2 separate regions of the Homo sapiens genome follow, and region 1 is linked to region 2. A link means that fine-mapping ties the variant in region 2 to the expression of a gene that starts in the linked region. Tissue or cell type: unexposed skin. Region 2 holds a variant in brackets; the other region holds the start of a gene. All regions are shown on one strand. Distances are between the middles of the regions.

Region 1 (16,597 bases), 30 kb after region 2:
CAGAATTTTTGTTTAACTTTGTATGTTACCATTTATGCAGACAGAAATTTTTTAAAGCATTTGATAGAAAATCAACAAGCTTCAAGCAGAAACTAAAGCCATGAATTCCCCAGATAGACTCCTAAAAATTAAGATGGTGGCTTCCGTTTGCAGGATGCAGATTTCAAGGAAGTCCCTCAATGAGTGGCCTTCTCTGCGATTAAGGCCTAGGCTGGTGGTGGTGGTGGCAGCGGGGGGAGGATTGGGGCAGGAGAAGAAGCCCCTCACTAGCAAAGAAAAGCTGGACTCTGAGAGAGAAGCACCATCCCAAGAACGTCCACATGCACACTTCCCTGCAGCCTCATTTTCAGCTCTTCATTGTATCTGCGGATGCTGTAACCTGGGGGTTACTTCCTTTAATTCAGGCAGAGATTCCCAAGTTTGCATCTGCTGATATCTGGAAGGCCAAGCTCTTGGCTTTGCTTTAATTCAAGTTATTTGCCAACTGGATCTCGGTGCAAAGCCCAGATAACTCGACTGCCTAAATGGGAAATGGGCTTGATGTGTTTGTTCTGAGCAGGGTCATATAGAGCCATTATATAGCAGCCTTATGTTGGCTTAGGCATTTTCTTTCCTTCTTCTTTTTTTTTTTTTTTTTTGAGACAGAGTCTCGCTCTGTCACCCAGGCTGGAGTGCAGTGGAGCGATCTCAGCTCACTGCAAGCTCCACCTCCTGGGTTCATGCCATTCTCCTGCCTCAGCCTCCTGAGTAGCTGGGACTACAGGCGCCCGCCACCACGTCCAGCTAATTTTTTGTATTTTTAGTAGAGACAGGGTTTCACCGTGTTAGCCAGGATGGTCTCTATCTCTTGACCTTGTGATCCACCCACCTTGGCCTCCCAAAGTGCTGGGATTATAGGCGTGAGCCACCACGCCCAGCAGCTTAGGCATTTTCAAGAAAACTGAATTAAATTCAGTAATACTGATCAAGCTGCAAAGTGCTGTGAACACAGATTCAAATGTCTCAGTTCTTGCCCCTAAGGAGCTCACAGTCTCCTCTGTTGTTATAAACATGGGAAAGAAGGAGTGGACTGGTCAAAAATGAGGCTATGATGGCTATCCATGCAGCTTTCCTAGTTGGGATACCTTATTTGGTCTAAGGATAAACAGGAGTCCACCAGGCAGAAGAGAGTGAGGAAGGGAGTTCCAGCAGTCACAGGATGAAAGGCTCTCCCCTCACTGGCCGCAGGTAGAACATGTGAGGTGCAAAGAGAGTGAGCAGCGAGGGCTCTCAAAGACTCTCTCCTGCGCAGGATTGCAGTGTCTGCTTTCCTGACCTCATCATTTTCCAAACATATTCTTAGAAAAAGAAAACCTCTCAAGCATTCTTTCCATCTGCTTCTACCCTGACCTGGAAATTCAAGGGACCAGAAGCAATACAGCAATACAGACAGACCCTCCATGCAAAGAGCGTGAGACAGAGAACTGAGTCCAGAAAGTGTTAGCAATGGCTGGGAAGCTAGATTACATTACAGCCATGTGCCAAATGGAAATTGAATTTCAAGTTATCAAAAGGAAGGCCAAAAAAAAAAAAAAGATAAGAAAAAGCCCTCGAGTTTAAAGATGGCTACATGAATAGTTCAGATATCTGATGGTGATTCACCGCTGGAACCCCTCCGGCCCTCCATGGAGACAATGACTCCTCTGGTCTTACTGAGGAGTAATTGCTCAGCATCTCTGACTGTACACACGATTCCAAGTATATTTATAGTGTTAGGATGGCCCAGAATTTTTGAAGGTTTTTTTATTTTTGCCAAACAGTCCTGCCAGGAGATGCTGAAGGTCAGATATTTTAGAAAATCTGTTTCTGGTACTTCAGCAGTCAACTACTATTGCAAGGATGGAGAAAGATGCTTGGTTGTTCCAGGAAGCTCTGTCATGACTCCCAGGTCCAATTTTAAAGTACCTTCTGAAATAGGTGAAAGGTATTCCTAAACATGCTCTCTAGAACTTAAAGCATAGGTTTTCATCACACACAAATCTGTACCATGGGGCAGAATTAGCCACAGGAGACATTCTCAATTGTCAATTAGCCATAAAAGTGGCTTGAGGAAAAACTAGATAATGTGAAATAACTCTTTAAAGGAAGAAGAGAGGTGGTACATTCTTTATTTCACAGATAATGTAAAGAAGACATACAAAGGTGAAGGGTGTTACCTGTGGCCACATACACTGCTCCATAGGAGCTCCTGGACCTGGGGTTCACCCCCTGCCTCCTAGAGCCTGGCCAGTCCAGGCTCTTTCTAGTTAGACTATTGGGATTTTCTGTTAATGACCCTAATCAAAGTGGAAATAGCACAAAACGACCTTGGTGGCAGTGAAGAGAGAACTTGGGATTTCAAATTTTTAATGTTGACTCATAAAGTTAATTCACAAAGAATAACAGATCTTGGTGTGGTTTAAAATAAACACTCTTGCCAGCCATGGTGGCTCACGCCTGTAATCCTAGCACTTTGGGAGGCCATGGCAGGGGAATCACTTGAATCAGGGAAGGCAGAGTTTACAGTGAGCGGAGATTGCTCCACTGCATTCCAGCCTGGGTGACAGAGTAAGACTCTGTCTCAAATAAAATAACATAAACATTCTGAGGAACAAGTGAGGCATGAGACTCCCCCATTTCAGAAATGCCTGGAAGAATCTCCCATTTCAGGTATTTTAGGGAAGCAAACCGTTCACTCAAAAGAGAATTTTGCCAGGTTTGCACAGACTTTAGACATTAATACTTCCTTTAAATGGATTTTGGAATCATTGACAGAGGAAAAAAAGAGTAAAACTCTAAGAGAAGGCAGGCAGAGAAGTGAATGGATTGCTCCTGAAAAGGACTGAAATCAGAGACAAAGAGATCTCAAATAAGAAGCAAAGTTTTTCAGAGTCTACCTTACAAATACTTTTCATCTGAAACCATCCAGCAACATTTACTGGCCCAAATGAACTATGGGTGTGAATAGTTTCATTCTATTGGTCATTAATGTACCAAACAGAGTCTTTCTTAAAGAGGTATCAAAGCCACAGTGGAAACTGTATCCGACGCTCCAAATAAACTCTAACCAAGGATGGGAAACTCGGAATCATGGAGTTGTTTGTGGATTTGGCTAAAAGTCAGGCATGTTTTGAGGCTTTAAACACTGATTATTTATATCCAACAAATAGTTTGTGAAAAAGGAGAGAGGGAAGAAATGGGATATGGAAATTGTGTATCTCAAGAAAGAGCCAATCATTTTCCCTCCTAACCAGAGCATGGCAGAAGGGAGAAGAAAAGGAAAAGAGCTTGCCCTTTGTGGAAAGCTGAGCTTTTCCTGAAAGTCTGACAGGCAGAGAAACAAAGTTTGGATCCTGCAAGATCGTTCCTGTAACCAGATCAAGTTCCTCCTGTTTGCTGGAGGCCCTTGGGTCTCCCGTCACAACTGCACCCAGCTCACGGGCACAGGCAGGTGCATACCCTGCCCGTAGAGTCATCTTTCATAGACTTCCCTGCTGGATCCGGGCAAATAGTGTTTCCAGAAAAAGCGAATCCAGCTTTCTGTGCCACCACCCTGGGATCTGGTACTGTGTCATGGGAAGGCATGCAGGGACTTGCCTCCTGACCCCACTGCCAGGAGGGGTGCTGGTTTGATCACTCCTGACCCCTTCCCGCCAGCATTTATGATCTTAGACACTTACTCACCTTCCAACCATGTGAGGCAATTAAGAATGATTGCCTCTGAATCAAGGGCAAATCATCCACCAGTTTCCTGGCCAAGGTTTGAGTGGGAGGAACAGCTTGTGTGAAATCCTTTAACGGTGACAAAATGCTTAACAATCTTGATGGCAGTGGTCAGTTAGGGTAACGAACATAGGGCGGTCTGACCTCCAGCTCATGTTTTCCTGTGTTCACTTTCTACCTGGTAATGGTGAGCTCATCCTAATCCCCCTGGGGTAGCCCCCATCCGGGTAGGAGGCTACTGTTGGCCCCTGCACAGATGGGTCTAGCCCACCAGCCTCCCCCCCACGACCCCACCACAGGGTGGCAGTTGCGAGCACACGCCTAGAAGCCCTGCCTTTCTTTGGCCTCTCCCAGAGAATGAAATTTCAGCATTTGTACAGCTCAGACCCACTGGCTGAAACTTCTACCTCCTGGCTCAAACTTCTACCTCCTGCTTCCCTGAGTGAAGTAACTGACAGAGGAAGTAATACTTCCAACTGGATTTTAGAGTTCCTGAGTCTAGTCTATGTTTAGTCTATCTCTATTTCCCTGTCCCTCCCCCACGCCCTAAACTGACATTTCGTAGGTTTCTGGTAAATTACCGAGTCCAGAGTTGGAAGCCCTAAGTGGTATTTATTTTACTTCAAATCACCTTTAGTCATCAGAATCACCTGGAGGGCGTGTTAAAGCAGGAGCTGGCCTGAGAATGTGCACTTCTAACAGGTTTGCAGGGGATCCTGCTGCACTCTGGGACAAGGCTTTGAGACCTGCTAGCCGCAGGAAGTCTTTTCCTCTCTTTCCTCCCTTCCTAGCTGTGCCTCTCCCTGAAGCCCACCTACAGGAGAGACGGGAAAACGTTATGGGCAGTGTTGTCTCAAGAAGGAATGTCAGGATAATTGGAATAAACAAAAGAAGAACTTGAATAACTGATCACAGTCACCGTTGATCCTTTCCCCAGGAAATAGTACTTTTTGTTTTTATTTTCTTCCATGAACTAGCCTTTTATCCATAGCAGAGAGGTTTTCTCTCAAGAAGAAACAGGATCTGAACAGGATCTGAACCTTAATTCTTCTTCTGGTGGGAGTTCAGTCCATTTCCTTCTTATTCTGGATTAATTTCCCCTTTGCCATTGAATAAAACAGAGGACTTTACAAAGGGCCTACTTCATGCCAAGTAATGTGTTAATAGTTCTAAGTGGTTTATGTGCATCTCAAAAGACCTTCGCCACAATTTCACAGACTATATGTTATTAGCCCATTTTACAAACTAGCAAACTGAGGGTTAGGGAAGTTTTGTAGTTACTGGAGATCATAGTAGTCATAGATAGAACAGAGATTCAAATCCTGGCTTGACTTCAAAGATCAAGCTATGCTGCCATAGACAGCATTACGCTTTCTATAGTGAAAGACTTGTCACAAACAATTCTGTGATCTGTCACTTATTCAATACACATATTTATTAAGCACATACTATGTGCCATGCTCTATAATTAATTAGGTCCTAGGAATATAATGATGTACAAGATGGATGGAACTTTTCAAAACATATTTTCTTAGATTGTCTCATGAAAATTTGTTTTTAATACTTTGTCCTTCGATGGAATTGCTCATGAAAGCATATGTCATTAAACCCAGAAATTGCATTCCCCTCCTCAATTTCTTGCCATCCTCCTTTGACTTACTATTAATATCAGTTTAACAAATTTGTTTCCTATTTTCCTTAAAGGAGTCTGTTGCTTTTATTTTTAAAATATATTTAGTTTTTGGGCCAGGCATGGTCGCCCACGCCTGTAATTTCAGCACTTTGGGAGGCCAAGTGGGTGGATCACAAGATCAGGAGATCAAGACCATCCTGGCTAACATGATGAAACCTCGTGTCTACTAAAATTATAAAAAATTAGCCGGGTATGGTGGCACATGCCTGTAGTCCCAGCTACTCAGGAGGCTGAGGCAGGAGAATCGCTTGCACCTGGGAGGCAGAGGTTTCAGTGAGCCAAGACAGTGCCACTGTACTCCAGCATGGGCAACAGAGCAAGACTCCATCTCAAATACATATATATATACACACACACACATATATATATACACACATATATATACATATATACACATATATATACATATATACATACAGATACATATATACATATACATACATGTGTATATGTGTGTATATGTGTATATGTATATATGTATATATACGTGTATATATACACGTATATATACACATATATACATGTATATGTACATACATACGTATATATACGTATATATATATTCGTGTATATATACGTATATATGTATATATTCGTGTATATATATATTTAGTTTTTGAATGAGTACATTAACATAGCTCAAAATTTACAAGAAATAAAAATGTGTACAGTAAAAATTAATCTCCTTTCCACCCCATGACCCCTAGCCACTCAGATCTCCCCAGAAGCAACCGCTTATAAATATACATTGTCTTCCCCCGTCCTTTCTTTGCTCATGAACACAAATGGTTGGTTTCTACCTACAAAGTGTTCTCTACTTTTATTTTTCTCAGTTGATTTATCTTGGAGATCATGCCAAATCAGTAAATATAGTTACCTCGTTCATTTTAACAGCCGCATATGTAAATAATTCTAAAATGCACCATACTGTATTTAACTAAGCCCTTGTTGACGAACACATAACATGGCCCAGTATTTTTCTATTACAAACAATTCTACAATGACTACTCTTGTGTGTCTATCGTTTTACACAGGAGCAAGTATATCTACAAGATAATTTCCTATAAAGGGAAATGCTGGGTAAAGAGAAAATGGTATGTTCATCTGTAATTTAAAAATGTTTTCATTATGGAATTTTTCAAGCATTACAAAAGGAGACAGACTAGTAAGATGAACTGCTGCATATCCATCATCAAGCTTCAGCGATTATCCACAATCCATGGCTGATAGTATTTCGTATATATATAGGCCCTATCCATTTCCCCACCCCAAATTATTTTGAAACAACTCCAGGCATAATGTTATTTCACTAGGAAATATTTTGGCACTGTTCTTGAAAAGCAAGGACTTAAGAAAAGAAAAATATATGTGTGTGTGTAATCACATTATCACCCCTAACATAAATTGTTCATTAATACTAGAAAATATCCTGTCAGTGTCATATTTTCCAAGGTTGTCTCATAAAAATTGATTTTCTACTAGTTTATTCTTTGATTAGAATCCAATAAGATCCAAAAAAAAAAAAAAAAAAGAATCCAATAAGATCCATACATGGCAGTTGGCTAAGTCTTTTTTTAATCTCTTGGTTCTGTCTCCATCTCTCTTGTTTTTCTTTGTGCATCGTTGTTGTAGAAACTGGGTATGTTTGTTTCCAGAGTCCGGATTTTACTGACCCTATCGAATGACCACAGGGTCATTTAAAATGTTCTGCTACCCATTAGGTCAAAAATTAAACACAAAATTAAATTGCAGAATTTCTTAATAATAAAACACAACATAGCTGAACCTATGTGACACAGCTAAAGCAGTTATTAGAAGAAAAATAACAGAACTAAATAACTCTATCAGTAAAAAAGCAAAGCTAAATGGATTACACCCGTAAGTCAGAAAGCTAAAAAAAAAAAAAAAATTAAAATATAAGACAAAAGGAATCAGAAAGAAGATAAATGCAGAATTAATGTTTCATCATTTTAGGGCTTGTTTTTACAAACTGAAGCTTAAGACTCACCATTTGAGAACTAGGAGACCATTTCCTAATTTGTAACGATATCAACAACACATCTAGGTAGCTGTCAGGGGCTGGGAGCCTTTTCTACACAAACTTTGCTCTGAATTTCAAAATACTAGCCTGTCTTGACACTTAGTGGAAATTCAGGTAGGGTGGCCTTAACTCAGGTTCTTCAGGAAAGCGTCCTGTTTCAGGGACACAGTGGGGTGGGGTCGGGGGAGGGCTGTATTCCGCACATCTAGTTCTGGCTGGGCTTATGGCAAGTCTCAGTCCTCTGGAGTCACCTGAGTGACTGAGGGATGAGAGGCATTTCTGATCCCGTAATATACTTACATGGCTTTGCCATCTACCACATCCCAGTTCAAATCTCAGCTGGCACAGTTACCGTTCACGTGGCCTGGAGCAAATCTGAGCTGAACTTTCCTCACCGTAAATCTGGTAAAAATCTTTACCTTAAAGGAGTGTGGATCAAATGAGATACCAGGTAGAGCTAGTGCTCACCGAGTGGAAGCTAAGGTGATGAAGCCCCTTTATTCTCAAGTTCTGTGATTCCATGATGGAGACCCATGAGGCCTACCAGACGGAGAGTATCAATTAAAAGAAAGCAATCACGGAGTTCTTCCCGCCTTCTCTGGAGGATGTATTCCTATGAGCTGCCCCGAATGTTAAAAATAATACACCTGCCCCCAAAGTGCCGAGGACGCCTTTGTGGTCCACCTACTCATCGTCCACCGGTTTCTGCAAGTGGACCGGTTACCTGCTCAGGAGCAAATGTTTCCATCACGACGCACCCTCTCCCAGGGATGGGCTCAACCTGTGCTCTCCCTGCGACAATGCTGAACAGTGCCATCTGTCCCTACCCAGCGTCAGCGTCACGCAGAGGGCCCGGGCTTGGAATGTGGGAGGCACGCTCCCAGCTCACTTTGGTTTTCCCGCCCTGGAGGGGAATCCAAGATGTCTAACTAGTCTTCTGGCCCCGAGAGGGAGAGGTGGGGATAGGACCTTCCTTTAGTCCCCTCCGTAGTGGAACGAAGGATTCTTTATGGTCATCTGTGGTGTTCATTTCGTAAAGAAGCATCTGCAGGGTAAGAAGGAAAAACGTCCACCTTGCAAATATATCCCAGGCACATGCCTCCTGAGAAGTGACCCCCTCCTCCCTCCGCCTCCCCCGGCACGTCCTGGGGCTTCTCCAGTCTCCCGCTCCTGGGACCAGGCAGAGATCCCGGCGTGGGCAGACCCCTGCCACCGCGCCCAGGCCTCGTCCGAAACTCGCGCCCGAGAGCCCACGCCGGAGGCGACGCTCCCGATAACTACTGTGCTCCCAAGACCCGGAGGGCACGAAGAAAGGAGCCCTGGCAAACAAAGGGTACGGGCCGGGACCGCCGCAGCCCGGGGCGGGGGCACGGCAACCGCGAGGCCTGGGGGCGCCCGCCCCCCGCGCCCCACGCCCGGTGCCAGCGAGCCGAGGCGTGCATCTCCTTATATGGTCAAATGACACGGCGGGGTTTCTCGAGGGCGGGAGCTGCGCAGCGCTCCACTCGGCCGGCAGCGGAGCCGCAGCCACCAGCCGCCCGCGCCCTCCAGCCCCGTCCGGGAGTCCCCGGCCCGCTGCGGTGCCGTGAGTACCTCCAACCCCCTGCGCCCCGGAGGGAGGCCGAGGGGCTTAGCCACCAGGGCTCGGAAGTGGGGGCCGAATCCGGTGCGAGACCCAAGGAGAGGGGAGCAGAGCCGGAGTTGGGGAGACTGGTGAGAGGAGAGCAGAGCTGTGGGTCCGGGAAGACCACTGGGAGAGGGGACCCGAACCGTGCGGGGAGAAGCCGGGAGAAAGGAGTTGAGCTGTGGGGTAGACCCGGGAGAGGAGAGCCGAACCCTGGGGGTTGGGGGTGGGGAGACCACGGGGAGAGGGGAGCGGAGCAATGGGAGGGGTCTAGACCCTGGGGGCGCTGGAGCTCAGAGGAGCCCACCGACTCATCCCCAGAGGGAGGACTGCAGCCCGCGTCCTCACCAGGTGGGGCACCGCCATGCGGGCAGGGACCGGGCGAGCCTGGGTAAAGGCTGGCCGCGGGTCCCAGCCGGCGGCTGCGGGGAGGTGACGCTGTCCGCCTGCTTCCAGGCCCGACTCCCGAGCGGGCTGTCCTGGCACGGTGGTCTGCGCGGGGGAGTCCGGGCCATTTCCCTTTAGTAGAAATAAGTGGAGTTTGCAGTGTGACCTCGCTCCTTGACTCAGGTAGACATTTAATAACTGAACCATTCGGTTAAAACAAAAATGGCTTATTTTAAATGAAAAGATTCTAAGTTTTTCTTAAGTCGCACTCGTGTGATATCTTAGCATACCAGAAATAGAGGGAAGAAAATATTGAGTGTTTTTCTGATTTTAAATGAATCAGTCATATTTATTTTCATATCCTCAGTCGGGTTTTAACTGGAAGTAGGCTAATCCGGTTAGCTGAAATGTGTAGCTGGCTTGCAAGCAGCAGTGTACTTAGACATCACTGAACTTAAGGCCCGCACTCCCTTCCACATATTTTGGAAGGTAATAAATCACAATTTGGGTTTAGAATCAGGAGAACTGTCTTCAAAACACAACTCCCAATACATCTCACATTTTTGGTGCTGACTCTACTAATGAGTGTTTTATAATAATATATTAAAGAAAAGAGGTTTTGCACTATCCTGAAGATGTTTTAGACAAAAAAAAACAAAAAACAAAAAAACAAAAACCATTTGCATCAAGTCTTAGAAGTACAGGAATTCCTAGTCTATCAATTAAACTTTAATAAAACCAAACTCAAAGAACATTTCATTGTGCATTTATATAAAATTTTGTCAAGTGTTACTGGATTTAGATCACCCCCCAGTTTAGAAGATCATCAGTTAATACACAGAATTGTGTTTCCACGGTGTTTATTAGCCTGCCATGGTTTAAAATGCGTTTACACCATAACATGTCGATGAAGGCTAATGATGGGCTTACTACAGACCAGAAACTGTTCTGGGCACATAGGTTCTGTCTCATTTTAGCTCACCGTCTCACAAATAGCCACAGGCAGATGCAGTAGGCTAGGGGATGCCGGGGACTGCATGTAGGCTGCCTAAATTTACATCCGGGTCCCTCAACCTGTGCAGCCTGGGCCAAGTCACTTAATCTCGTAGTGTCTCGGTTTTCTCCACTGGGAAACAGGGACAATGATGTTGTCTTTTTGTTAGGGTTGTTAAGAAGCCTGGACATCATAGACAGTGTATACATATTTGATAGCCTCATTTTTACAGGTAAAGACACTGAAAACAGAGATCAAAGTAACTTTAACTCAGGGTTTCCCGGGCTGTAAATGGTAGCCCTGAGATCTGACCCCAGGCAGCTTAACTGGAGAACCTGAGTTCTAACCACTAAACGCACCACGGGAGGAACATTTGAATATTTATTTATTTTTTTTAACATTTGAATATTTCTATGAGGCCTTATGATGCATACTTTGACCCAAGATTGCGTGTTAAACCATTTCCAGTACTGAAAGATATTTAAATTGCAGTCAAAAACGCCCAATAGAATATTGCCAAAAAAAAAAAAAAAAAAAAACAGACTAGATATCAGGAGTAGTTTACTCCTGTCCTGTGCCGAGGGCCAGTTACTCAGCCTCAGTGACTCAGGCAGCCTCCTTTGTCAGCACCGGGCCTGAGTCGCTAAGCGGCTCTCTGACTCAGATGCCCTGAGGTACAAAGTTCCTTGAGCTTGGGTGAATGGAAACATTAGACATTGGGTTCTTCTGTGCGGTTTTATTATGAGAATTTGATCAAAGCCACATTTATTAAGTGTCCATCTCAAGTTGCATTATACTGAGTTCGCTTCCTCAAGATGACCATCTGAAACAAAACACGTGTGCTTTCTCTAGTGGCTGAGAACTGTGTCTTCCTGGAGACTAGGCTGGCATTTTGACTTTGGGGTGAGTCAAGTGAATTTCCTCTGTTATCCTAAATTGTGGATTTCAGTTTTAGCTACTGTGATGGTTACTTTCATGTGTCAACTTGACTGGGCCATGCGGTGCCCAAACATTCAGTCATATGTTCTGGGTGTGTCTGGGAGGGTGTTTTTGGATGAGATTGACATATGAATGGGTAGACTGAGTAAAGCAGGCTGCTCTCCATAATGTGAGTGGGCCTTGTCCAAACAGTTGAAGGCCTGAATAGAACAAAAAAACTGAGTAAGAGGGAAGCCCCCCTGCCGGACTGCTTGAGCTGGGACATTGGTCCTTTCCGCCTTTGGACTCACACTGAAACATCGGCTCTTCTTGGGTCTATAGAGTCTCCTCTTTTCAGACTGCAATTTGCACCATCGGCTCTCCTGGGTCTCCAGCCTACTGACTGCAGGTCTTGGGACTTTTTCACCTTCGTAATTGTGTGAGCTAAATCATTGCGATAAATCTCTCTATGTACATCTCTTGTTGGTTCTATTTTTCTAGAAAACCCTGACTATTACAGCTCTCTGGTAACATCTATTTAAAAAGTCTCCCCACCAACTGTCATTCTCCCTTTTTTTAAGATTTGATCACTACTTTGCTCCTGGGAGTCTTGGCTTTCCTCTTGCTGTAAAACATGCTCTCTGCATGGGGATGTCACGAGGGGTCTGGAGCAGCGTCTGGTCTCCCAGGTCCATCCCAGTGCTCGTGGGTGGTGTCTTGCCTGGTGTGAACTTAGACTTCACACTCATCCTCAGCCTTCGGTGGCCCACGCCTTTACTAGCCTGATTCTGTCTGCGGCTTCAAGATCCTCCCGTCATATGGTCTTGAGTGAGATGTGGGATGTCTGTGGCAGAAGCAGCTGCCCTGTTTTCATGGGTGAACAGAATTAATGCCAGAATGTCCTTGCAGTATGTAAATATGGAGCTTGTCAGTCAACAAGGAAATAGACCTGTCTGCTTGGGTTAATACAACTTTTGGAGTCACTAAGAAGCAGGCAGTCAATGAAGGAAGCAGAAGGAACTGTGCAAGCCTCTCGGGACAGAGTCCTGTTGCAGTGCGCCAGAGAAACCCCACAGAGTGGCAGGACTGCAGTGAGAAGGAGGTGGCCAGTCATTCATGGAAGCTGCTGGATGCCAAGAGAAAGGCCAGCATGGGGGTGGGGGTCATAGGCACCTCAGATAGCTGGGAGAGTGAACAGTGAGCCGCACTTGGGAGGTGAGAGGAGACCCCTGCCATGAAGAAGAGTGGGTGGTTTTCGTTTTGTAGGTGTAGAAGTGTTCGTAACTCACTCAGGGAAGGCATGGTAGAGCCATAGCATGCAGGATGGAGTCTCCCTTGGTCCCCACACTGGTGTGATTGACGGACCCGAGGCCACCCGCCATTCTAGCGTGTGCAGCTATGGTTGTCCTGCATGGCTGCAATTGATGTGTTTTGAGATTAAATGACAAGATGGGATCTTAAAGGTGATTTAAATTATTTGGAGCTAGAACTAGACTGGAACTCCTTCATAGACTGTGTGTTTTATCTCAGCTTCCCAGTGCCTCACGTAGCACATGGAAAACAGTGGTTACTCAACACATTCTTGTCGGCTGGGTTCAAAAGGCTGAACGACATCAAAACAAGTGTAACTCCTCTTGTAGTCATGGACTTCAGATCAGAAATTTGATATTTATTGTTTTCCCTTTATTTTTAGTATTCAATATTCAAAAGATAATTCAGAAGACAGCAGTTTACCTTATTCAAACATTGCCTCATGCAGAACCACCAGAGATGAAGATGTTTATTTATTTTTTTTAAGTTGGAAGTTACCAGTTTATGTAAACTATAATACACCTCTGACACCTGTCTGTACATGCATTTAGTAAAGGCTTATTAAATTAATCTGTAAATATATTATACAGTGGTAAGCATAGTCAATTTTATACCTTACAAACTAAGATTGTTTAAAATCCAACAATTTAAAAATAGATTTCAAGTGGATGCTAGATACTTTTTTTCTTTCTTTCTTTTTTCTCTTTCTTTCTTTCTTTCCTTCTTTTCTTTTTTTTTTCCCAGGGTCTCATTCTGTTGCTCAGGCTGGAGTGCAGTAGCTTTTCACAGGTGCCATCATAGCTCACTAAAGCCTCAAACCCCTGGGCTCAAGCAGTCCTCCTGCCTCAGTCTCCCAGGTAGCTAGGACTGTAGGCACACATCACCATATCCAACTGATATAAATTTTTTTTTTTTTTTAGAGACCGGGTCTTACACTGTGGTCCAGGCTGGAGTATAGTGGCAGCACTACAGCTCACTGCAGCCTCGAACTCTTGGGCTCAAGAGATCCTCTCTCTTTAGGGACTCCAAGGCTTGATCCATTATTCTAGTTTATAAAACAGCAACTTTCCTTGACATGATGGCCCTCTCCGTTTTATCAGAATTTCTGTTTAAAACAACCCGTTTAGCTAGACAAATGAAGAGTGTTGGGGGTGAGCGGTTTTTGTGTGTAGATACTCCCATCCGTAGGAAAATAAAATGGTGCGGGGTATTCTCTGAGCACATTTCCAGGTGTGAGAGTCCCGTGCCTTTGAATGGAGGATCTTTGATTATAGGCATCACATGTCTGTAGAACATCAGGGCCTTCTGCTGACACCTGGAGCCCGTGTTGGGGATCTGTGCGTTCTTCCCAAAGTGGGCACGACTCCCAGCTGGCTTTTTGCTTCTTGACCTGGCCAGGCTGCATCCTGGACTGTGCAGCTGTGTGTTCACATGGGATTGGAGTCCAAACACAATAAGAAGAGTTATATCCGCTGCGGAAGCAGCAGCTTATCTGGAAGGAGGGACGAGGGCAGCGATGGAAGCTCATGATGTCATATGCCAAACCACATTACATGTTGGGTTTGCTATGCAGAGTGGATTGTTCACATAATATGTTTCTAATTTTTCATGCTTGATTTTTGCCTGTATGTTTGTACTCTGACATGTTTGTATTCATCCACCCGTCAATTCATTTGTTCATCCATTCCACAAGTATTCACAAAGCCCCTGGTCCTGTGTGTGTTCCCTGCTGGTGAGGTCTCAGCGACAGGTAGTGGGCACCCTTCCCAATGCTTACGGTTGGTAGAAGACGGGGCAATTGCATGAAAACACTGCACTTTTATAATGTATTTTTTAAAAGAGCCCACATAGACCAGTTTTCCTAATTGTCTCTGGAAAGCTCTGGTTGATTATTGATAAGTAATTGAATATCCCTTGCGGATCCCCGGTGACATCTAAAGATACAGGGACTGACTTACCGAAGCTGCTTTTGCATGTGTTGAAGGGCTGCATGCAGGAAGGGCTTGGGGACGTTCACAGATTTCTCCTTAGGAAATGGCTATGTTAGAGGAGCCTCCTGCAGCAGGGTTGATAGGGAGAAGCACTTGGGGTTTCAAAGGGGGAGGAGAAAATGGGCCCATTGGGGTCAGATCAAAGTAGGTAGTCAATAAAAGGTGCATTGAAAAGGATGCTTAAATAGACTTCTTTTGCTAATCTGACCTCTTCAGGCTTTACCTGTAGGGATCTGCCAGGCTCCTGGAACTCCAAGGCCTGAGCCAGCAAGCCAAGGGAGGCTGTCTGTCATGGCAGCCCCTCCTTTGATCGAAATCTTTCTGGTTAAAAAAAAAAAAAAAATTAGCTGGGTGCGGTGATGCACGCCTGTAATACCAGCTACTTGGGAGGCTGAGACAGGAGAATTGCTTGAACCTAGGATGTGGAGGCTGAAGTGAGCCAAGATAGGGCCAGTGCACTCCAGCCTGGGTGATAGAGTGACACTGTCTCAAGAAAAAAAAAAAAAAAAAAAAAAAAGCTTCCTGGCATGCAGGGTCCTTGCCTCTCTTCTGCCTCATTTCATTTACCCTCCTCCTTCCTTTTTTTGTCCTGTCACCACCCTTCTCCCCTTCTCTTTACTCTTTCTGTTTCCTTTTCCCTTTATTTTCCTCCAGCTTTGATACTTTCCCCACTCATACTTTGTTTTACAGTTTTTGAATCTGAAAATTTAAAAATAGATCACACTGATGAGCTTGTGAACTTTTAAAATTAGTATGAATTGTGAGTAGTAGAGTGCATTGTTGCTCCCTGGCCCTCTGAACCTTTATTCTTACATCCTTTTTATTTCTTTTTCTTTTTTTTCTTTGGAGACATGGTCTGTGTCACCATGAGGCTGTTTCCTTGAGGCTGGAGAGCAGTGATGCTATCATGGCTCACTGCAGCCTCGACCTCCTGGGCTCAAGATCCTCCCACCTCAGCCTCCTGAGTAGTAGGGACTACAAATGCATGCCACCACACCCGGCAAATTTTTTGTGTTTTTTGTAGAGATGGGGTTTCTCCATGTTGCCCAGGCTGGTCTTGAACTACAGGGCTCAAACGATATGTCTGCCTCGGTCTCCCAAAGTACTGGGACTACAGGCATGAGCCTCTGTACCCGACCTATTCTTACATCTGAGTCAAAGCTGGGCTAGCGAGAGACTCAGAGATCAAAGCCTTCCCTGGGCCATCCCCAGACCTCCGAGCTGCACCTGGCACCTGCCTCACCCATTGCAGTTCCCTTGGCCTGGAGTCAAGCCTGTACCCTAAGATCCAGCTTTTTCAAATACCCTATTCAGGGCCGAAGGGGTAATGACATCATGGAATGATTTAGCTTGGTGAGGAATAAGAACTCCAGGAAACTGTGATTTGGAATTTGATTCAGTGAAATAAAAAGGAGGGGTTGCGCCTTATGTTTGGGCATCTCCCTGCAGGCTGTTGCCTGATGCTTTCAGCATTCCTGTGTACCAGCTAAGGAGCAGGAATTATTGATAACCTGTCAGGAGGGATGTGGAGTTCACAGAGAGTAAATGGATTGTACACAATTAGGTTAATAAGTCCTTGTAGAACCAAGATGTCCTACTTTTATTTGAAGAAATCATTCAGAAATGGGCTCTGATACCCTGATACATTTTTTAGGAGTCATTGCCCCCTGTCTTGCATAGTAAAGGCAGGCTTCCATGCAGTAAACTTTCACTGGGCTGTCCGTTTCTCCACTGCCTGCGAGGCATACCCAAGTCCATGAACAAGGCATCCAGGCCCTCATTGCCTTGGCTGTTGACTGGGTCTTCCATCTTCCTGGGCTCTCTGCCTACCCTACTCTGTCTCTCATGTCTCTGGCTTTGCCTACTCCACCCCTTGACCTGACCTGCCATATCACCT
Region 2 (16,597 bases):
ATTGCATGCTTTAAAAAGGAAATGCATGAATATTTTACAATTTCCAGAGCAGGGCAAACTCCAAAATGCACAGTCCTGAGTAATGCCCTGGCCAATTGTGTAATAATCTCAATATTGATAGGATGCCATATATATGATAATAGACATCATATATATAAACATCCTCTAGCCAGACTCCATGTAAGACACTTTATCAAGTCTAATCTAAAAAGAAAAATAAAGTTGTCAGTCCAGTTTATTTTTCTAAATTATTCTGACGTCCAAAGATAGTGTTAATAAACACCTGCCTTACAGATTAATGCTATTGTAGCTCATATTTGCTATATGTAAGTTTACTATAGTTGTTTTATTTGTTTCTTGGGAATATTATTTGAATTTTATTTTATTGCTAGGCTTTCAAAATTTTATCGATACATAATATTTTACATATTTATGGGGTACATGTGAGTGTTCGGTACATACATAGAATGTGTATCAGTACATACATAGAATGTGTAATGACCAAGTCAGGGTTTTGGGGTATCCAGGATGGGCTGGAATAAGGTCTATTATGTGTTGAGATCCACCCGACCCCTTACACAAGTTTTTGTATTTAACTGAGTAGGTGACTAATCCACTCAAATGATTACACTTTGGAGGCATTTTCTTATATTAAAAAATATTTTAATGCATAACTTCCATGAAAAGTTGCATATTTTCCAATACGGGGTTCCCTGACTGCTCACCCACCATCTTGCCTTTCAGCAGGTTTCGTACTTTTAGGTTTCATTGTTCTATTCAGGGCTTCCAGAGTTCTCCATTGATTTCAGATCCCCAAGGCCAGGCCAAGCCATGCCTCTCACTGCATTCCCATGACCTAAAGCACAGGGACCTGCACTCTTTCTACCGATCTCTGAAATGTTTCATATTTACAAGATATGGCCCAGAGACTGATTCTAATTCATTCTCTCCCCACCAAAGAAAGAGGTAAAATTATATTGATTGTTTATATCTTTTTCACTCTACAAATAATCTGTTTACTATAAAAAATACAGACCAGCAAAAAGAAGAAAATGGAAAATCATATATAGTCTTACTACTCAAAGATAACTATTTTTGCAGTTAATTGTTTATCTTAATTATTTATTCATTCTAAGATATCTTTGATTGAAAGATTAACCATTAACTTAATATTCGTTTTTTTTAAAAAAATACCACTATGAGATATTTTAAGGTGAATCCAAAAACATTAAATTATGTGGGAAACTGTAAATAATAATTAACAAAACATATATATATGTATATATAAATCAAGTTATTTGCTAATCTTCTTTCTTCCAATTTATGGCCAATGTCTTTTACTGTAGATTCAAAATCTAATTCCTTGAAAATTGGTTATCTCTATATATCATTATGACCAATTTGTTTAGTCAACATATTAAAATATTCATAATAGTTGGATAGATGAGAAGTAAAAAAGGATAAAGATTTAGATAAGACATTTTATTAGAATATAGCAATATAACATCAGTTCAAAGTATGATCTGGTAATTGACTTCTACACTATTACTGGTCCCTTTTGAATCATGAAAAACTCAACCACCTTGCGCCTTGATCTGCATGCCCTCCACACCCCACAAAATCTGGTTTACTGATTTTTTTTTATTACCGTTGATTTGTCAGCACCTCCTCACTTAATCTCTAATACACTAAAATGTGGATGAAAAATAGAAAAGAACTCACATAAGTTCTGAGCAATTTAATGTTTTACAATTTGATACTTCATTTGAATTTAATGGATACATTTTAGATGGAGAAAAGAGGAATAAAAATCCATTTTAACACAGGACTTTTGTTATAGTTAAAAAGTAATACTGAAAAATTAAACTGAACTAAGACCATATCAAGGCAACAATGCATAAAACATACTTGATCTGTTTTATTAAGGAGGAGCAGATAATTAGATATTAAGAAGAAAGTGCAAGAATTTCATTCTGGTCTTTTTTTATTGTTTGTTTGTTTATTTATTTATTTATGTTTTGAGAAGGAGTCTCACTCTGTCACCCAGGCTGGAGTGCAGTGGCACAATCTCGGCTCACTGCAACCTCCACCTCCTGGGTTCAAGTGATTCTTCTGCCTCAGCCTCCCGAGTAGCTGGGATTACAGGCGCCTGCCACCATGTCCGGCTAATTTTTGTTTTTTTAGTGAAGACAGTGTTTCGTCATGTTGGCCAGGCTGGTCATGAACTCCTGATCCCAGGTGATCCACCTGCCTCAGCCTCCCAAAGTGCTGTCATTCTGGTCTTTAAAGAGTAAGCATGTCTAGATGGTATCTGAAGCGGCTATGGGAACCACCTACTTTCACGTTAAGTAGAAGCCATCATAGTGCTTTTTGCCTGGGCTTAGTTCTGTGCAGATAAATCTAGAGTAATTTCAAGGTATCAGTTCACGGTTTCGTATGAACACAAAATAGAAAATGACATGATTTGAATGTTCTACTCCAAGTCGTATCCTTTGTAGGAAGATGAAATGGTTAAGATGAAGGCACAATGGGTTATATGAAAACATTACATATATGTAATAATATGTAATAACTAAAACCAATAAACAGTGCAATAGCTCAAAAGTGAAGTATGGTTAAATAAAATATGATTAGCCATAGTATGGAATATATGCAACCATCAAAAATAAAGTTTGCATAGAACTTTTGATTTTTAAAACTCAAACTAGAAAGCAATATTCATAATATATGAACTGAAAAAATACACCAAAATATATAAAATTATTGATTCTGAAGGATAAGATTGGTAGTAATGTTACATTTTTCTCTACATTTTAAATAGTTTACTAAATTTTCTATACTAAGTCTGATCATGAAAGTTTTCGTAATGCAAAATTCTATGCAAACATAAAACAGTCTAATTATTACCACCAATTATAAAAATCATAAATAACCAACCAGAATGATTTAGTCTATTAAAAATAATAGCTAGTTTCGGAGGCTGAGGTGAGAGGATTGGTTGAGCCCAGGAGTTTGAAAACAGCCTGGGCAAGAGATCAAGACCCCATTTAAAAAAAAAAGTTGAAATTTATTGAAAGATCATTATATCCAGTAACTATGTTTTAGCTCATTTAATACAACAGCACTATAGGTAAACATTATTATTAATTTTGTTATTATTCCTATTTTCAGAGAAGGAAACTGAAGCTTATAACCATGTTATTCATTGCCGAGGGTGCAACCAAGTTAAAGATAATGTCTTGTTTTTTTTGTTTGTTTGTTTTGTTTTTTTTTTGAGATGGAGTCTCACTCTGTTGCCCAAGCCGGAGTGCAGTGGCAAGATCTCAGCTCACTGCAACCTCCGTCTCCCAGGTTCAAGTGATTCTAGTGCCTCAGCCTCCTGAGTAGCTGGGATTACAGGCATAGGCCACCACTGCTAATTTTTGTATTTTTAGTAGAGACAGTGTTTCACCATGTTGGCCAGGCTGGTCTCGAACTCCTGACCTCAGGCGATCCGCCCACCTCAGCCTCCCAAAGTACTAGGATTACAGGCGTGAGCCACCGTGCCTGGTCAATGTCTTTCTTTCCAGTACTTTCCGATCCAGTTGGCATTAGACTTCAATTGCAAAAGAGCAACCCTGTTGCCATATGCAAGGGACAGCATGGTTTGAATGACATAAATGAATGCTTCAGGTATTGAGGGCAAAATCTATGAATGTTTTAAAATACTTGGGATAAAGTTTGCAGAGAAAGGGACGTGGTGCCTCAAGGAAAGGAGAAATTAGCAGAGGCTGAGAACATTACAGGTGAGAAGGAATGTGAACAATATGGAGATGGAAAGTGATAGGATTCCTTTGAAGGTACCAGAAAATATGCTAAATGTGTTGAGGGGTGGGTAATGACTTAAGGACAAGGGCTACCTCACTTCTCTTTGTTCTCTTTTGGACATTTTGAAAACTCAACATTCTGTAAGATGAAATAAGAAAGTCTCTTGACTCCCCAAAGTAAAAGGGGAAAAAAGAAAAAAATCATTTTCATAAAGAATCTGGAATAGGACTGATTTGGATTCCAGATTTAAAATAAAATAAAGCTCTGAATTAGAGAGATAATAGTTGTTGGCGTTCGAGTGCTCATGGTGTGTGCAGCAGTGTTGTGTATGCTGCACACACACTCAGGATGTACAGGGTGGCTCTATGAGGAGTGTTCCTGGTTTCCTTGTTTACAGGTGAGGACGCCGAGGCACTGAGAGGCAAAGGGGCACAGAGGCAGTACAGGGGAAGCCAGATTTAAATACAAGCAGTGCAATGCCAGTTTCACACTAATCCCACTAGAAACTTGGAAAAGTCTCCACAACGGAGAAAGGACCTCATCTTAAAAATGAAGCCGGGCGCGGTGGCTCACGCCTGTAATCCCAGCACTTTGGGAGGCCGAGGTGGGCAGATCACCTGAAGTCAGAAGTTCAAGACCAGTCTGGCCAGCACGGGGAAACCCTGCCTCTCCTAAAAAATACCAAAATTAGCTGGGCATGGTGGAGCGTGCCTGTAATCCCAGTTACTCAGGAGGCTGAGGGAGGAGAATTGCTTGAACTTGAGAGGTGGAGGTTGCAGTGAGCTGAGATCGTGCCACTGCACTTCACCCAGGGTGACAGAGAGAGACTCCTTCTCAAAAAAAAAAAAAAAAGAAGAAGAAGAAGAATGAGGACTTTGAACTTATTTTTATTTTTCGTTTTTAATTCTCCCTTTAGTTTCAGCACCTTCTCAAGAGGCTGGGAAGGGTATTCATCCATCCTAGTTAAACCCTGAGAGCTAGCACTGTAACCTGCACACAGTGCACAACTGACTAATAAATATTTGCTGAACCAAACTGTTGTGTTTAATTCAGTTGAGTTCTAGGAGTGTTGAAATCCAAAGGAAGGAGCTAGAAGTTTCTCTTCTTGGCTAGTACTTTTCCCTTCTGCAATCCTGGCTGGGAACCAGGTTTCATATTCACTCCCTACCTTTCAATACGTAGCACAAGGACGTGTTTTTTACATGGAATTTTTTGGACGCAATCAGTATTAACATTTGATGATAATGTATGCTTAAGGAGTAGATTCTCTGACTTGAAAGCTTCCATTTACTAATTTATTAGTTTGTGTGAGTGTGCCTGTGTGCACACATGTCTCTGTGTACACATGTCTCTGCGTGTGTCTGTGTGTGCCTCTGTATAAGTCTGTTTGTGTTGGGGGAAGAGAAGAGGATGGAAATGCTGAAAAAATTCTAAACTCTGTAAACTTCCTTTTTGAAAAGCGTCCAATTTTCTTCAGAATCTTTTAATTAACTTACTAGGAAACTGTAATATTTTGCTCTCTTTAAATATAATTTAGGAACCGAAAAAGCAGGTGAGAGAGGATAGTCTCTTTCCTTCAACTTTATTTACATTGAATAGAGAACCAATGGCCAAATGTTATGCCCTTCCAATCCCAAAATCAAAGACAGAGGTCAAACAAGACAGTCAAATCAGTTAGGTTCAGAGAAAAAATAATAGCGAGTGTAAGACATAAAGCTGAGATGTGGAAAGTGCATGAGACAAACTCCTTTTAGGTCCCTGTTTCTCTACTCCTGCAAATTGAAAATGCAAAAATCTATGAGCAGGTGCAAATGTGTTGGGACTCAAATGAACCAGCATGGGCGATCATCCAAGTGAGGGGAGAAATAAGCACACCCACAATTTCATGTCTACAAACACTCTCAGAAGGAAAATCTCTGCAGGCAGCAAGGAAAAGTGGGATGAGGACCTTCTAATTAAGACAGGGCTCTCCACAAGTCAGACAGTTTGGAAACTCATAGTGGCAAGTTCAACATTGTTTGAATAATGAAAGTTGGGTAGAAGGACTGATAAACCCTTCAGCTACTTTTATTAACAGCAGCAGCAGCAGCACATCCTCCACTCTGGCTGCTGATGAGCTCCGGCAGGATCCTGGCCTGCTGCCCTGAGCTGCTTCTACTTTTGTCTGCTGTGCTTCACTCTTTCCTGGGAAGTGTCAGCAAACCTCCGCCAGCCTTGGGCAGGAGCAGCCAGGCAACCCCAGAGGCCAATGTGAGCCCAATTTAACCACAGGTCTCTGTTTAAAATTTGCGATCATATTTGTAACTTAAATTAGACAGTGTGTCTCCTTTTCCCAAACGTTCCAATGGCTTCCCAAGTCAAAATAAAATCCTAACTCCAACCATAGCCAACAGAGCCCTACATGATCCAGGCCCTAGGAATCTGACCTCATCTCTTCCTTCTCTCTCTGTCCATCTAGAGAGGCACCAGTCACACTGCCCTGACCCAGCTGTGCCAAGCACTGCCCTGCCCCAGGGCATTTGCACCTGCTGGCATCTCTGTCAGACTCTTCCCCAAGACAATCACATGCCTTCCTCCTTCCTTCATTCATACCCAATCTGAGAGCTACCCCTAAACACTTCATCTAAAATGACACTCCTTATCAATCTCTAGCTCCTTACCCTGGTTCACTTGCTATCTCACACATATACACATCCACCTACATATATGTTTATCTCTCCTCCAATAAAATGTGAACTCCAATGAATGCAGAGACTCTATTTTGTTCACTGAGATATGCCCAATACCTACAGCAGTGAGTGGTGTCTACTAGATGCTAAATAAATGTCTGTTGAACGATGAAGTTGTGAATAATCTATTTTCATGTATTTAATTTGAGATCTTAGAAACTTTTTGACTGTAATTCATATTGTAGAGGGGAAATGTTATAAAACTCTTCCTCCCCATCATAAGGGTCATGGCAGGCATTCCTATCACAAAATCTAGATTAACAAGAGAAAAGCATAACTAATTTATTTCGTGATATGGGAGGCTTGAGAAAGGAAGACCCAAAGATCAAAGAGAAAACTGTCCATTTTTATGTTTAGAGTCGAGGAAGAGTGTACAGTGGTGTAAAAATGTGATTGGACATAATGGGTATGGCCTAATGGCAACAGACTTAGTGGGGAACCCCAGCAAGGCCTGTCTGCTCTGATTCATCTTGGCCTCTGTATGGGGCAGTCTTTTCTCCCAGACACAGGGCAGGACCTCTGTGGAATGAGGTCTTAGGATCTCCTTTCAGACAAGGTAGGTTTGGGAATTTCTTTATACCCAACTCCTACACAAAAGGGCTGGGGAAAGCTTAAAGTAATATGTCTAGGGTTTTGTTAGATGGAGTTTCGCTCTTGTTGCCCAGGCTGGAGTGCAGTGGCGCGATCTCAGCTCACTTCAACCTCTACCTCCCAGGGTCAAGCGATTCTCATGGCTTAGCCTCCAGAGTAGCTTGGACTACAGGTGCCCACCACCACACCCAGCTAATTTTTTGTATTTTTAGTAGAGACGAGGTTACACCATGTTGGCCCGGCTGGTCTCAAACTCCTGACCTCGGGTGATCTGCCCGCCTTGGCCTCCCGAAGTGCTGGGATTACAGGCGTGAGCCACCTCGCCTGGCCTATTTCTAGGTTTTATTTTGGAGGAAGAGTGGTTCTGGCTTCTCTGACCTGCTTTAAGGGAGGAAAGGAAACAAGAGGAGGACAGGAGAAGATCAGACAGAGACTTTGCTTCAGAGGCCTTTCCAGTGTGCTTCAATTCAAAGCACTCAGCAAGCCACAGCGCCACACTTTGGGGTGTCGTTTGCTAAGCCCCAACGATGCCTATCACTGGTCACAGTGTTCTTGTTAGGATTCAAGTCTAATGTCCCTTGTTCACCACTTAAACTTCACTTTAAAAATTTCCACTACACTTGCATTTTGTCAAGGAAGGGAGGTGGGAGCTGACGAGTCAGGTTGCCAGGGCACAAGGTCCTAGTTCTGCTGTTCACACTGGGCCCAGGCAAGATTTTAACTTCCCAGAACCACGTCTGTAAAATGGGAATAATAACAGTAACCTTGTCGGTCACTTGCAGGGATTCAAGGAGGCACTAACAGCCATGGCTACCATGAACTGAGCCCACGTTGTATCACAGAAAGTACCCCATACTCTTGACTTGCTTTGCACTGTCCCGTCTTCACAGCAGCCACCTGGTGCAGGGACAATTACAATTCCTAGGCTGCAGATGAGGGAACAAACCTAGAAAAGTATCTGAACTAAGGAGCTATAGTTGCTGTACTAGTTTCCTATGGATGCCGTAGCAAATTACCATAAACTTACTGTCTTAAAGCAACACAAATTTACTTTCATTTTTGGAGGTCAGAAGTCTGAAACAGGTCTCACTAGGCCAGAATCAAGGTATCAGCAGGGCTGCATTCTGGAGGCTCTAGAGAAGGAATGTTTCCCCACCTTTTCCAGCTTCTGGAAGCTACCTACGTTCCTTGGCTCATGGCCCCTTCTTCTATCTTCAAAGCCCAGAGCATAGCATCTTCACATTTCTCTTTCACCCTGGCTCTCCTGTCTCCATCTTTCATATATAAGGACACTGGTGATTACATTGGGGGATGTCCAGATAATGTAGAATAATCCCCCTATCTCATGATCCTTAACTTAATCACATCTGCAAAGCCCCTCTTGCCATGTAAGGTGTCATATTCATGGGTTCCAGGAATTCAGATGTGCACATTTTGGGAGACCATCATTTTGCTACCAATTACTAAGAGGCAGAACTGCGATTTGACTCCCAGCCGATTTCTTGACCATCATATTGTGGGGCAAAGTCTTTGGTGTTTATTAAGTCCTTTTTCCCCCTTGTGGCAGTGGAGGGAGGGTGGAAACCTCTGGATCCCAGATTCAGGTTTTGTATGCCACATTAAACAGGACAGGTCATCCCCTTCTGCCCTTCTCCTCTGCAGTATAGGACGCCAAAGGCTCACAGTTAACTTTCAACATTGTTTTATCTTATGAAGGTAAGGTTTAAAACAATCCATCTCACCCCATCTCCAAATATATTATTGACTTTTAAGCAACCACAGACGTTTGATAAAAGTAGGTTACAAAGTAAAAATGAAAGCCTAGCATGGGGACAGGCCATGACATGCCTCCCATCCAACAGG[G/T]TGTCTGTACAGAGTACAGAGCAGCCGCCAAGGGCAGACCTGGAAGCAGGATCCCCACAGTAAGAGGAGCAGGTAAGGAAGAGCTGAGGCGGCCTAGCTCAGAGTGCTCCAGTGAGGGACACAGGGTCCGGGCACACAGGTGACCAGGGAGAGCGTGGCAACCCAGGCCACAACAGATAGAAGCTCCAGGAACCAGCCTAGCAAGGTGGCAGAACAAGCTGACCCACACGAAGCCAAGGGACAGGGCAAGCATGGTCATGGGGCAGCCATGGGCGGGCCTGTCCGCAGGAGAGGGTAGTAGACGGTCCTCCGAGTCAGGCTGGCGGCCTATGAGGAGCCCAACCTCTCAGGGATGGAAAGATCCCGAAGGTAATTCCAAGGCCCAGCAAACCAGCCAGGTTTGATCCACCAGGGAGGGAGCAAGTCAACAGGACATGAGAATTATTTGGGTACAAAAGAAGTGGGGTTGCAGGGAAACTAGAAGCTGGAGATGAGCTGTAGTTTGGGGAAGATGGGGTGTTCACAGCTCAGCAAGCCCCTGGCTCCCAAATCTGTGTCAGCTGAGCTATGTCCAGACCTCACCTATGGGTGGCACGGGCCGCCCTTACACATATACGCATACCTCCACTCACTTGGGGGTGGCTCAGGGCCTCCAGGACTGGAATCTAAAAGGACCTTTGTTCCTCCAGGTGGGAAAGACTAGGGGCCACCCTCAGCAGGCTTCTAGTTGACTGAGACCTTTTATGACCATGAGTTCTCAGAACAGGATTACTTACCTGGTACCCAGTTGCTTTGATCCTTTGCTTAATGTGAGCATCACAGTGTTAGAAATCAGAGGTGAATTTACATGGGCTGTGTGTTTTTGTGACAAAGCAATAAGAATAAAGTAGACTGCATACTCTAGACATACTTTCCTCAGTTATTCATACTTAGAGTGACTATTGAATTTATGGTCCAAACTGAGGCACTTTTGAGAGCACTTTTAATAAGTATGTGAGGTCCACAGGTGTAACTGCTGGTTCTCGGGGCCCTGTCAGAGGGGGTCCCTTCTCTGAGCCCAAAGCCTCACACCCAGGCACCCAGGGCCTAGTGAAGCTGCCTTAGCTGTAAGCACAATGGTTTAGAGGGATTATTCAACATCTAAATGCTTGCCTGCAACCTCAAACACTCTCATTCCTTTCACATGCAAGACAAGAAATGCTGAATAAAGTTTCTTTTGAGGCAGACCAATGATGTAACTCCCTCACAAGGGCCTCTGTTCGAAAGTCAGGGACACGTTTATCCTATTGATTATTGACATTTGAGAGTTGCACCTCCATCCCCCAAGCCCCGGAGCTCACTTTTCTTTTGTGACATTGTTCTAAATTGAGGTGCTTTTCTGCTGCCCTCTCCACATGTTCACAAGACACTCTCTCTTGTCCAGACTTCACTGAAACAGAAGTGTTTCAAGCTCCGGGTGAGTTTCATAGTGCATATCATGGGTCATGAAATCAGTTCAGTGGATTGAGATCAGCATATTTTTAACAACAAAATGAAATTGACTAGAGCAGGAAAAAATAGAATTAAAGGGAATAGAATGCTTTTCACATAGTAAGAAATTCTTTCCAGAATTTTTTCATGACAGTATATTTTTCTAGCATTAAATGTGAGGGTGATTGATGTGGTTATGATGTAAAAAATGTACTTCCTGGTGTGGGCAGCCACCAAAATTTGCAGTCCCCTGCTATAAACCATCTTTGCAGGTTTTCTTTTTCCTTTCGCCTGGATTCTTACAGTGCCAAGGGCGGCTCTCTTACTCCTACACACCCCTCTCAGGCATCCTCCATTCTCTGCAGATGGCTTAGTTTGATCCTTTAGGCTAGAGCCAACGAAATGCCTTCCTATTTGATCAGTTCTATCAACATAAGTCTTTATCGAAAAAGGAAAAGAAAGAAAAAGCCAAAACCTTGCACCATTCACCAAGGAGTGATAAGGGCCATGTGAGTAGAGATCTCTGAGAAGCTTCAAAGCAACCCGGCTAATTCTCAGCAACCCCACACCTCCTCGGCAGCATCTGCACCCCAGCACTATTTGTGCCTAAGTGTGGGAGTGCTGGGTGTTGCTGTGCGTGTGTTCTCATGCACCTCCCTTCTGTGCCACAACATAAGTGGAAAATATCTCCGCCTGAGTGCCTGGCCCCCCTTCTGCATTGTTTCGGGGTCTTTGCAGCAGCACAGGGGCTTCTAGCCTCTTCCTGTAATTTTGCAGAAGGTAGGTGCAGGAGTGGGGAGCCCTCACATCAAAGGCTGCCTTCCAGGACTGCTGGCTCAGGGAAGGGAGGAGGGTGACCCTGGTGCAGAGCAGAAGAGAGCGACCCTAGGCAGGATGTCTGGAAGGAGAGATAAAAGCAAACTGCAAAGGTATTTTGATAGACCATGCTGTTTCCATTCTTTACCATGTGTTTTTCATTCTGCTTTTGGTTACTTTTGACTTGAATTATGGAGCCTGGTTAAGGTAACATAGATGCAATTACTTTTATACGTCAAAAATGAATACTGACTTTTCCTAGTGGGGCTGGGGGTGATGGGAAGTGGCTAAGACAGAATGCACATTGCCTTTTAGAAAGCTGGAAAGTTCTTTTCTTCTCACTTCCTTATGGCAGCAGAGAACCTGTTTTTCCAAGAGCTAAGAGCACTTTGACAAATGCACCGGGTAAAAGCTTGCATGCAAGATAGAAAGACACCCCCGATGATGACATAGTGTGGCCATTACATTGCCGAAGAGGAAGCAAATACCAAATACATCTATATTATATATGAAGGAGTGGCCTGCCCCTCCACACCTGTGGGTATTTCTAGTTGGGTGGGACGAGAGACTGAGAAAAGAAATAAGACAGAGAGACAAAGTATAGAGAAACAATAGTGGGCCCAGGGGACCGGCGCTCAGCACACCAAGGACCTGCACCGGCACCGGCCTCTGAATTCCCTCAGTTTTTATTGATTATTATTTTCATTATTTCAGCAAAAAGGAATGTAGTAGGAGAGCAGCGTGATAATAAGGAGAAGGTCAGCAAAAAACATGTGAGCAAAAGAATCTATGTCATAATTAGGTTCAAGGGAAGGTACTATGACTGGACGTGCACGTAAGCCAGATTTATGTTTCTCTCCACCCAAACATCTCAGTGGAGTAAAGAATAACAAGGCAGTATTACTGCAAACATGTCTCGTCTCCCGCCACAGGGCAGCTTTTCTCCTATCTCAGAGTTGAACAAATGTACAATCGGGTTTTACACCGAGACATTCAGTTCCCAGGGGCAAGCAGGAGACAGTGGCCTTCCTCCATCTCAACTGCAAGAGGCTTTCCTCTTTTACTAATCCACCTCAGCACAGACCCTTTACGGGTGTTGGGCTGGGGGACAGTCAGGTCTTTCTCATCCCACAAGGCCATATTTCAGACTATCACATGGGGAGAAACCTTGGACAATACCCTGCTTTCAAGGGCAGAGTTCCCTGCGGCTTTCTGCAGTGCATTGTGCCCCTGGTTTATTGAGACTAGAGAATGGCAATGACCTTTACCAAGTATACTGCTTGTAAATATTTTGTTAACAAGGCACGTCCTGCACAGCCCTAGGTCCCTTAAAACCTTGATTTTATACAACACATGTTTTTGTGAGCTCCAAGTTGGGTCAAAGTGGCTGAGGCAAAGTGGCTGGGGCAAAGCTACAAATTAACAACATCTCAGCAAAGCAATTGTTTAAAGTACAGGTCTTTTTCAAAATGGAGTCTCTTATGTCTTCCCTTTCTACATAGACACAGTGACAGTCTGATCTCTCTTTCTTTTCCCTACAATATATATATACTTTAAGTTCTGGGGTACATGTACGGAATGTGCAGGTTTGTTACATAGGTACACATGTGCCACGGTGGTTTGCTGCAACCATCAATCCATCATCTACATTAGGTATTTCTCCTAATGCTATCCCTCTCCCAGGCCCCCACTCCCTGACAGGTCCTGGTGTGTGATGTTCCCCTCCGTGTGTCCATGTGTTCTCATTGTTCAACTCCCACTTATGAGTGAGAACATGTGGTGTTTGGTTTTCTGTTCCTGTGTTAGCTTGCTGAGAATGTTCCAGCTTCATCCATTTCCCTGCAAAGGACATGAACTTATCCTTTTTATGGCTGCATAGTATTCCATGGTGTATATGTGCCACTTTTTCTTTACCCAGTCTATCATTGATGGGCATTTGGGTTGGTTCCAAGTCTTTGCTATTGTGAACAGTGCCACAATAAACATATGTGTGCATGTATCTTTATAGCAGAATGATTTATAATCCTTTGGGTATATACCCAGTAATGGGATTGCTGGGTGAAATGGTAATTCTAGTTCTAGATCCTTGAGGAATAGCCACACTGTCTTCCACAATGGTTGAACTAATTTACACTCCCACCAACAATGTAAAAGTGCTCCTATTTCTCCACATCCTCTCCAGCATCTGTTGTTTCCTGACTTTTTAATGATCAGCATTCTAACTGGCATGAGATGGTATCTCGTTGTGGTTTTGATTTGCGTTTCTCTGATGGCCAGTGATGATGAGCATTTTTTCATGTGTCTGTTGGCTGCATAAATGTCTTCTTTTGAGAAGCGTCTGTTCATATCCTTTGCCCACTTTTTGATGGGGTTGTTTGTTTTTTCTTGTAAATTTGTTTAAGTTCTTGTAGATTCTGGATATTAGCCCTTTGTCAGATGGCTTAGATTGCAAAAATTTTCTCCCATTCTGTAGGTTGCCTGTTCAACTCTGATGATAGTTGATTTTACTGTTCAGAAGCTCTTTAGTTTAATTAGATCCCATTTGTCTATTTGGGCTTTTGTTGCCATTGCTTTTGGTGTTTTAGTCATGAAGTCTTTGCCCATGCCTATGTCCTGAATGGTATTGCCTAGGTTTTCTTCTAGGGTTTTTATGGTTTCAGGTCTTATGTTTAAGTCTTTAACCCATCTTGAGTCAATTTTTGTACAAGGTGTAAGGAAGGGATCCAGTTTCAGCTTTCTGCATATGGCTAGCCAGTTTTCCCAACACCATTTATATAATTGGGAATCCTTTCCCTATTTCTGTTGTTTGTCAGGTTTGTCAAAGATCAGATGGTTGTAGATGTGTGGTGTTGTTTCTGAGGCCTCTGTTATGTTCCACTGGTCTATATATCTGTTTTGGTACCAGTACCATGCTGTTTTTGTTACTGTAGCCTTGTAATATAGTTTGAAGTCAGGTAGTGTGATGGAAGTAAATACCTTTAACCAGAAAGACAAGACACAGAGATAAACATTCTTCCTGCTACAGAAATATGGTGGATTCCTCAATGGCTGTGATCTTTGAAAAGAGAAGCAACTGTTGTCTATCAAATAGCTAAAAATACTGTTAGAAGTATAAATATGTCCCCTGATATTGTCAGAAGTTTCATCGAAGCCTCAGGCAAGCAAAATGTGTCCTCTGTTTGTACCTCAATCTCTACTCCTGCAAAATGCAGATAATTATACCAGTAAAGGACTATTGTTAGAGTTGATGCAATAGGTTTATGAAATCTTCAAGTGGCTTGCAAATAATTCAAAATCGAACTGTAATTTCCAATCATTCTAAAAGCTTCATGTTTCATTTTTTGGAGACATTATTGCTCTGTTGGCTTTTTCTAACATATGGGTATCACTGACAGCCTCCATTCTGTACTAAAATCTAGAAGAATCTTCATTCCTCTGGGGGCAAACATCAGAGAGAGGAATGGAAGAGCTGCCCCAGGGACCTGACGCTTGATACCACTTCCTGAGTCAGGCCCAATGCAAGCATCCTCAGCTTGCTTTCCACTATGAGGGAGTTGTAATGGGTTCCCATGCCGTCTGAGCTGCAGGAAAAGGAAAGAAGTGGGAGAGTAAATTAGTGTTCTGACATTATTGACGGAAGACTTTACTCTCGTTTCCTAGTTATCTGAGAGGTACAGTGTCTATTGAGTAAAACTGTCAGAACGAAAAACAGTGGTTCTGCAATGATTTTGGTATCTTGTACAATGCAACCTGTAGTATAACTGATACAGACAATCCTTTTCTCAATCAAGTAATCAATTGATAAAATAAACAGGACAAAAAAATCAACCTAAAGATGCAATCTCGTGGCAGTATTAAACTCCAGACAGTATTTAATTTTGATTTCTCTCACCTGGAGCATTTTTTTTTTTTTTTTTTTGCCAGAGATGAATCACATCTGTCACAACAATAACAACAACAACAAATTAGCGGAAAATTGATTTTCATGGTCCTGTTGTCTCTAAGTGGCTTGTGGTTTAGTTTGTAGATCATGTCTTATCTAGAGCTATAATCCTATAATGAAAAAGTAAATTAAACCAAGAGGAAACTATAAATAAAAAAAATATTTCTCTTATATGTGATCCACTATTCCCATCACAGTTTTGCTTCCTAAGTAGTTTTGTCTTATCTGAGAAGCACCAAGGATCCATCCACATAGGGCCCCTGCAATTCCCATGCACATGACATGCACCTCCATATGCATCTTGCCACCAACTTGAGAATGCCAGGAGCTGGTTGTGGTTCACAAGGCATGGGAGTTCTTGCCATTCTCACCAATAACACCAGCATCTTGAAAACCCAAAGCATAAAAGCAAACAAGTTACAAACATAAGCAAACCAACACATCTTCAAGCCAAACAGCTGTTTCTTACTATGGCTTTTCCTTTCTGGTCCACAACGCGGCCAAGATTGCTGCTGGACATGCATGGTGTTGGAGGACTTGCATGTATGTGGGGAAGGACTGCCCTCCACCGTGATTCTTTCCTAGGGCAACTCCTCTGAGCTACGCTGCCAATGCACGCAACAGGACCCCAGGAGGGGCAAAAAGCTGATGGGAACAAAAAGATGTACCAGTGAACTCTGGTCTTAATATAAAACTAGCATGGTGGGTAATAGAAACATCTTTTCCATTAAATCAAAGAAACAGATCTGGAAAACTAAATCCTAGAATGTTGAGTCCCTGATGGCAGAGACTGCATTGCAAGCTCATGCATGGAACTGTGCCCTCTGCATCACAGAAGTGCCTCCATTTGACAGTTACGATATCAGTGTCATGAGGCTGGGATACCTCTCTTGGTCAATGCAAGCCATAGTATAACTGAGCTAGACACTTTCTCAATCAAGCAGCCTTTTGATAAAGAGGACACAAAAATCAACCTAAAGATGGAATTTGGTGGCAGTGTTAAACTGCAGACAGTATTTAATTTTGATTTCTTTCATCTGGAGCATTTTGTTGCCAGAGATCTGTCACAACAACAACAACAACAAAAAATGGGCAGAAAATTGATTTTCATCATCCTGATAGCATTTGTCCTAGAGACAGCATTTGTGTTAAGAGAATAGTGTTTGTCTTTTTGATCAGGAGAGTTGAGCTTATGGTCTTAACTTCAGGCATTGGGCCTTCTGTAGCGTGCTTGTGAATACTCCACCCAGCATCTACACTCCAGTGACCAGGCTTTTGGGTTGCTGGTCTTTGAACTTTGGCCTGTAACCTCAAGCAGGGCAGAACATTGCCACAAAGCCCCAGATCACTGACACCAAATCAAATTTGTGTGGACTCT

Which allele goes with the higher level. Positions count from the first base shown, and alleles are read on the strand shown. Sizes are in standard deviations (SD) of each study's normalised expression.
As copies of T replace G in region 2, the expression in unexposed skin of the gene that starts at base 8,979 in region 1 goes up (small effect, 0.29 SD a copy in GTEx).

Evidence for each region. PIP is the estimated chance that this variant, and not a neighbour inherited with it, causes the effect.
Region 1: it holds the start of FHL2, and the variant in region 2 is fine-mapped to the expression of FHL2 in unexposed skin (GTEx, PIP 0.98).

What each region holds. Positions count from the first base shown.
Region 1 is chr2:105,391,433-105,408,029 of GRCh38, reverse strand. FHL2 (four and a half LIM domains 2) reads left to right here and starts at 8,979. Exons shown (of 7, transcript NM_001318895.3): 1 at 8,979-9,188; 2 at 11,333-11,383. RefSeq lists silencers at 8,876-9,005, 9,026-9,245 and an enhancer at 8,376-9,198.
Region 2 is chr2:105,421,245-105,437,841 of GRCh38, reverse strand. It overlaps a transcript of FHL2 not described here. Among named protein-coding and RNA genes, the nearest start is that of FHL2, 30 kb to the right of the region's middle. RefSeq lists an enhancer at 9,932-10,433. The variant G/T (reference allele first, on the strand shown) is at 8,991.